Homo sapiens: one gene and its partner. The protein of the gene in region 1 interacts with the protein of each later gene in a pairwise test. Each region holds a gene or a part of one and is shown in the gene's direction. Other genes may lie near its edges. The genes, in order: SPRR2D and USP13.

Evidence for each region.
Region 2: the proteins of SPRR2D (region 1) and USP13 interact in a two-hybrid assay, tested with the Homo sapiens proteins (one large-scale study listed by IntAct).

The regions. Positions count from the first base shown.
Region 1 is NC_000001.11:153,039,209-153,042,868, reverse strand, and holds SPRR2D (small proline-rich protein 2D), read left to right. Parts: upstream 1-1,748; 5' UTR 1,749-1,791; exon of another isoform or gene 1,792-1,797; intron 1,798-2,503; 5' UTR 2,504-2,522; coding exon 2,523-2,741; 3' UTR 2,742-3,137; downstream 3,138-3,660. UniProt on the Homo sapiens protein: Cross-linked envelope protein of keratinocytes. It is a keratinocyte protein that first appears in the cell cytosol, but ultimately becomes cross-linked to membrane proteins by transglutaminase.
Region 2 is NC_000003.12:179,761,003-179,764,827, forward strand, and holds part of USP13 (ubiquitin carboxyl-terminal hydrolase 13), read left to right. Parts: intron 1-109; coding exon 110-253; intron 254-2,999; coding exon 3,000-3,166; intron 3,167-3,825. UniProt on the Homo sapiens protein: Deubiquitinase that mediates deubiquitination of target proteins such as BECN1, MITF, SKP2 and USP10 and is involved in various processes such as autophagy, endoplasmic reticulum-associated degradation (ERAD), cell cycle progression or DNA damage response.

The DNA.
Region 1 (3,660 bases):
GGCTCTTGGGGAGTAGTGGGTGATTTATTGAGTAAAGGACTTTTACTTTGGCTGGTGAAGTGCGTGGCATGTGTAATAGTCTATAGGAAGCATTTGGTGAGAACACCATTTGTAATCACCTGGCCTCAGGGTGCTGACATGATGGCTCTATTTCTGTAGTGTCCTGGCCAGTGGTGATCTTGGCTAAAAGCTCTTCCTTACTGACAGGAGCAACAGCTGTTCTGGGAACCTAACCTACTTAACTGAGGGATGTGATGCTGGCTTGATTCAACACTCTGCCCTTCCTGGAGCACAGTTGGTGACTGCTCCAGTGATTTTGAGTCTTTCCTCTTCCTCATTCTCCTTTCTTCTTATTCACTTATAAAACCATGTTCTTGGGAAGCTTCCCGATTAATGGTCCAGATAAGGAAGCAGTAGCAACATCACTTTAAATGTTTAATATACAGTACTTAGAAAGGCTCACTGATTGTAGGAAGCATTTAAAAAAGTTGTGAAAGGACAATCACTAAATGCATTGACAACATATGTGTTAAGTGAACAATATGTACCAAAATGGACAGATGACAGGTATACATTGGGTATGAGTTGATAATCTAGCAGTTTGTGGGACTAGAAGGTTTATGGAAAAGACAAAGGAAGAACATGCAAACAAATTAAAAAACACTGAGAAACATCTAAAACCTGTTTGGAAATAGAGAGGAAGAATACATATTGGATTACCCTTTGTTTGTATTTTCCCCTTGAGTTAAACTTTAAGTGCTCTTACCTTCCTCACTCTGCACACCTACTTCTAATTATTTACATATGATAATGTCTATGCAGCTTGTTCTCTATAGGATGTTCACAGGGAACCATATATGCATGGTTCCATACATAGATTTTGAGTCAATACTTGTAACTTTAGTTTCCTTCTCTCCATTACTTTTTATAAATAAAAAGGCTGTAGTACACATCCTTGATGGCACCAAGTAGCAAACGTGCTGTGGAGACTAGATCTCACTCTCAAATCTGTCCTGGGATGCAAGTGCCTCTACGAATGTGGTGCAGAAGCTACAAATGTGGTGCAGAAGACAGCTTCAAAGAGGAAAGGAATATAGGTAAAAATCTGAGGTTTTATCTGAGAAAAAGGTGGCAAAGAAAATTTCAGTCTTGAACAGGGTCAGCAGATAGCACAATGTGGTCAGCCTGCAAACCCAGAGGTAAGTATTATTGTCCCCTGTTTATAATCCCAGGGAGGAGAGGTGACATGCCTGTTGTCATGGAACTTAGCAAAGAAAAAGCTTAGCTCAGGCCTTTGTTAAGTCTCTCCTTCCTTCTAGCACATTGGCCAACTGTATGAGGAAAGTAGAGGTAGAGTTGGGTTCATGTACAACAATATGGCATTCAGCTAGAGTGGATCAGGACAGGAAGTTTTATGACTCAGGGGAGGTAAGATAGGAAGGGATCATTGTTCCCAATCAAGAAAGAGAGCCCTTGACAACCGGTTAGAGAATCCCTCCAATTATCTCTCTGACGAAAGTCACTGAAACTGAGATCTAAGGCAGGTTCTCTGTGACTCATGAGCACTTAACCCAGTGGGGAGATCCCAGAACAGGATATTTCCTAGTTTGAGAATGCCTCTCATGCCAGATATGGATACATTTGCATTTTACTTTGGACATTGCTGGACCAGCCCAGTTTTAGGCAGTTCCACTTCCCACTGGGTGGGGCAGAACGTCCTATAAAGAGGTTCCCTGCTGCACAACTCTTAAACTCCTGGTACTCTAGCACCGATCTGCTTTGGAGAACCTGGTGAGTGTGAGTCCTTGAGTTCCTCAGTTCTTTGTGACCTGAAATATTGAATTTAATCTGAAAACAGCAAGTTTGGTTGATACAATTCTGTAACCATGGGTTTGATTCTACTTAGTAGATGGAAATTTAGATTTAGAGTACAGTGATATGCTATTTTAGCTTGTTTCTTGTATACAGTTAGGTGTCCATACGGACAGAGAAGTTAATAGGAAAGCTTTGAATTGAAGAAGAAAAAAGAACAAAGTATTTTTTCCCCATGTTTTCCTGGTGTCTTTTTCAAAGGTTTGTGTCTTAACAGGTGCCAAGAGCCTGCAATCCTTCCCAAACAGCCCTTTGTTCTGTGCTCAAGTCAACCCACTGGGACTTTACTACAGATAATGATAAGAGAAATGGCTTGTGAGATTGCTCATGGTATCTGAACTTGTCACTGCCTTTCCTAAAGATGTTATTTTCACAGAAATAACATGCTTGGTTCATTACTACAGAGATATTTTCTTTGGAAAAATTGTATGAGAAAACACAAGATTTCCCAGGGCCAATGAAGCAATTTGCTAAAGTGGAAGGGAGAAACGAAGTAGTCTTGAAAAGGCAGTTAAGAGTTTAAATAATTTCTTGGAGATGGGGAAATAATATTTCATGGTATTACATAAGCATTAGCTTCTCTCTCTGGAGGAGTCCCTTCCCACAAACACTGTTGTATCATTTCTTTCAGATCCTGAGACTCCAGCAGGATGTCTTATCAACAGCAGCAGTGCAAGCAGCCCTGCCAGCCACCTCCTGTGTGCCCCACGCCAAAGTGCCCAGAGCCATGTCCACCCCCGAAGTGCCCTGAGCCCTGCCCATCACCAAAGTGTCCACAGCCCTGCCCACCTCAGCAGTGCCAGCAGAAATATCCTCCTGTGACACCTTCCCCACCCTGCCAGCCAAAGTGTCCACCCAAGAGCAAGTAACAGCTTCAGGATTCATCAGGAGCATGAGAGGATAAGGATAATTGGCTCACCTCGTTCCACAGCTCCACTTGCATCTTCTCACCAAAGCCTTCCATGGATGCACAGGGAGCTTCTTTCTCCTTAACCTGTGGCCTGCCTGTGATGATCTGTGACAGCAAAAGATTCCCTTTCTGAGGCTGCCATACTGCCACTGTCCAGGTGGAGCTAAGAAAAGGAAGTCCTCAGCTGTGCCAGCTCCCAGAGCTTCGGAAGAAAGAGCAGCAGCTCTCTCCCTGGGAACCATCAGACAATTCTGTTGATGTGTTCTGTGTCTGTCTGTCACCTGGTCATGAGCTTCTACCACCTTTGCAATTGTCATTTATCTTTCACTCCCTGAATAAAGTATCTATGCATATATATTTGTGAATGGATCTTTTGTTTCTTTTAGAATCTGCTTTATTAGTAATATTATATGATTATTTGGATTTTGTTCTACCTTTCTCTGATCCCCAGGACCAGGATTTCACAATTATTGTTATCTGAATTTTGGGCCATAACAATGATTATTTTTATATCATTTTAAACCCCTTTTATTTTCCTTAATTAGTGTTTGATTGATTTGAAGAACAAATCAATCAGAATTTTAATCTCTTCATTTTAAAATGTGGAAAATAATATTTATATCACTAACTTATCTTAGGCATAAAATGGAATTAATATCAGGAATTCAGTTGACACAATTTCTGACATATCATTACTACTCATTTGATAGTAGTCTATTAGCAGCAGTACATCATCATTAAAACAGAACTATTATTTGACCCAGCAGTCTCACTATTGGGTATATACCCAAAGGAATATAAATCATTCTACCATAAAGACACATGCATGTGTATATTTATCGCAGCCGTGTTCACTATAGCAAAGGCATAGAATCAAC
Region 2 (3,825 bases), on another chromosome or scaffold:
CAGAATAGCACTTTCTTTGGGTAGCATGTGGATAGGAGAGTGGAGAGTAGCTAAGACAAGAAGCGACAGTTTCCTCTTTCACACTAGAATATCCTGTTGTGCTCTGTAGCATCAGACATCGATGAGTCATCAGTGATGCAGCTGGCCGAGATGGGTTTCCCGCTGGAAGCATGTCGCAAGGCTGTGTACTTCACTGGAAATATGGGCGCCGAGGTGGCCTTCAACTGGATCATTGTTCACATGGAAGAGCCAGGTAGGTGGCGAGAAAATGGAATGGCTTTGGAGTCTGATGTGACCCTCAGTGATGCTGAGTCCTGGTCCTTCCAAGGTCCCTGTGGATGTATCCCTAGAAAATGACTTTATAGTTCCTAATCTCCTGCAGTGGAGGAGAAAGCCAGTCTTTTTCTTCTTCTTTTTTTTTTTAAAAACAGCAGCTTTAGGCCAGGCGTGGGGGCTCATGCCTGTAATCCCAGCACTTTGGGAGGCCAAGGCAGGCGGATCACGAAGTCAAGAGATGAAGACCATCCTGGCCAACATAGTGAAACCCCATCTCTACTAAAGATACAAAAATTAGCTGGGCATGGTGGTGCGTACCTGTAGTCCCAGCTACTCAGGAGGCTGAGGCAGGAGAATCGCTTGAACGCAGGAGGCGGAGGCTGCAGTGAGCCAAGATTGCACCACTGCACTCTGGCCTGAGTGACAGAGCGAGACTCTGTCTCAAAAAAACAAACAAACAAAAAAACAACAAAAAAAACCCCAAACAGCTTTATTGAGATATAATTCATCCCTTTAAAGTGTATAAGTCAGTGGCAAAAAGACCAATAGAAAGATACGGGATATACTTCTAACTAAGCGATGATGAAAATTTGAAATGGAAACATGGGCATGAAGAAATGGAGGATGTTTAGTTAGCTTTTTCTTTTATCTACTTTATTAAGCTATAATGCATATATTCATCTGTTTAAAGTGTACATTTCAATGGTTTTTCATAAATTCACAGTTGTGTAACCATTACCACTATCAAATTTTAGAACATTTTGTACCCTTCAAAAGAAATCTCATACATAATAGCAGTCACTCCCCATTTTCCTGCTCACCCCAGCCCCTGGCAACCACGAATCTGTTTTCTGGATCAAGGGATTTGCCTGTTTTGGACATTTCATATAAATGGAGTCATATAATAAAAGGTCGTTTGTGTTTGGTTTCTATCACTTAGCATAGTGCTTTCAAGATTCATCTATGTTGTAGCATGTGTCAGTACTTCATTCCTTTTTACGGTAAAATAATAGTCTGTTGGGTCGGGTTTGGTGGCTTACGCCTGTAATCCCAGCACTTTGGAAGGCCAAGGCAGGAGGATCATTTGAGGTCAAGAGTTCAAGACCAGCCTGGCCAACATGGTGAAACCCCATCTCTATTAAAAATGCAAAAATTGTCTGGGCATGGTGGCGGGCACCTGGAGTCTCAGCTACTTGGGAGACTGAGGCAGGAGAATTGCTTGAGCCCAGGAGACGGAGGTTGCAGTGAGCTGAGATCACGCCACTGCCCTCCAGCCTGGGCAACAGAGTGAGACTCCATCTAAAATAATAATAATAATAACAATAATAATAGTCTATTTTATGGGTATACTATATTTTATTAATCTTTATCAGTTCATGGACATTTGGGTTATTTACATTTTTTGGCTTTTATGAACAATGCTGCTATAAACATTTTTTACAAGTTTTTGTGTGGATGGACATTTATTTTTACTTCTCTTGAGTGGAATTGCCATGTCATATGGTAACTCTATATTTAATTTTGAGGAACGACCAAACTGTTTTACACAGTGGCTGAACCATTTTACATTTCCACCAGTAATGAATGTGAGTTCCAATTTCTCCATATCATCACTAACCCTTATTATTATCTTTTTTATCATACCCATCCCAGTGGGTATGAAGTGGTATCTTGTGGTTTTGGTTTGCATTTTCCTAATGACTAATGATGTTGAACAACTTTTCGTATGTTTATTGACTGTATATCTTATTTGGAGATATGTCTATTCAAATTCTTTGCCCATTTCTAATGAAGTTATCCTTTTATTATTGAGTTCTAAGAGTTCTTTACAAATTCCAGATACGAGTTTCTATGAGATATATGATTTGTGTTTTCCCCCCCATTCTGGTGTTTTTTCACTTTCTTGATGGTATCCTTTGAAGCACAAACATTTTTAATTTTGATGATGTCCAATTTATCTTTTTTTTCTTTTATCACTTGTGCTTTTTGTGTTGTAAATAAGAAACCATTGCCTAATCCAATGGCAAAGACTTACTCCTGTGTTTTCTTCTAAGATTATTATAGTTTTAGCTCCTATATTTAGGTCAATGAGCCATTTTGAGTTAATTTTGTGTATGATGTGAGGTGAGGGTCTGACTTTATTCTTTTGTATGTGGATATCCAGTTGTCCCAGCATCATTTGTTGAAAATAATGTCCTTTCCCCACTGAATGGTCTTGTTGAAAATCAGTTAACCACAGGTATATGGTTTTATTTCTGGAATCTCAATTCTATTTAATCGATCCATATGTCTGCCTATATACCAGTACCAGACTGTCTTTTTTTTTGAGACAGAGCCTTGCTCTCTTGCCCAGGCTGGAGTGCAGTGGTGCAATCTCAGCTCACTGCAACCTCCGCCTCTTGGGTTCAAGCGATTCTTGTGCCTCAGCCTCCCAAGTAGCTGGATTACAGGTGTGCACCACCATGCCCTGCTAATTTTTGTATTTTTAGTAGAGACAGGATTTTGCCATGTTGGCCAGGCTGGCCACGAACTCCTGACCTCAGGCGATCCACTCGCCTTGGCCTCCCAAAGTGCTGGGATTACAGGCATGAGCCACTGCGCCTGGCCCAGACTGTCTTGATTATTATAACTTTGTAGAATCATGTTTTTCCTTGTTAGTGTTGTTTCAGGACAAAAAAAAAAAAAAAAAAAGGAAAAGACTTGGGTGTGGTTATTTTTCTCAGATTTTGCTGAGCCGCTGACCATGCCTGGTTATGGAGGGGCAGCTTCTGCTGGAGCCTCTGTTTTTGGTGCTTCTGGACTGGATAACCAACCTCCAGAGGAAATCGTAGCTATCATCACCTCCATGGGATTTCAGCGAAATCAGGCTATTCAGGCACTACGAGCAACGGTGAGCATGAGAGACTGTGTGTGTGTGTGTGTGTGTGTGTGTGTGTGAATTTATTTCTGTAGCAGTTGAGACTTTCCAATGTACTTTGATCATTTTGATTCATGTTTGATTCATCTAACTGTGAATCTCATCATAGCCCATAAAGATTTATTTGCATATTATAAATATAAAGCTAAAATGAATGATTTTCACACAGCGAATGAGATAAATAAATCTGGGGTAATATGAGCAAACTGAAAGAAACTTGATATCATCTTGAATGTTTGTTAACAGGGGGTCAGAAATTTGACTTGGAGGCTGCTTGTGGCCCTAGAGGAAAGAGGGATGCATGAAATTCCATGTTCAGTAAGAAGTCCTTTAGGAGATAGAATGCTTTTCTGATACCAAGACCTTGGGTAAATGTCTCTTAAAAGTCCTCATAGAAAACTGAATGGCTCCTTGGAATTCTCTGCTGCTGTTTCTCTCTGCAGAAAGAGAAGGTTCTTCTGGTAGCCATGAACTTCTTGATACCAAGAAACAAGGGACTCTGAAACTACAGGGTAGACAATTCCCTTCTGCAGTGCTGATATCTGTTTAATCTTGAGGGAAGGTACTTAAAAAACAAAACAAAACCCATCCTTCCTGGTCACACCATAATCCATTTTTGAGTAGATATCTGC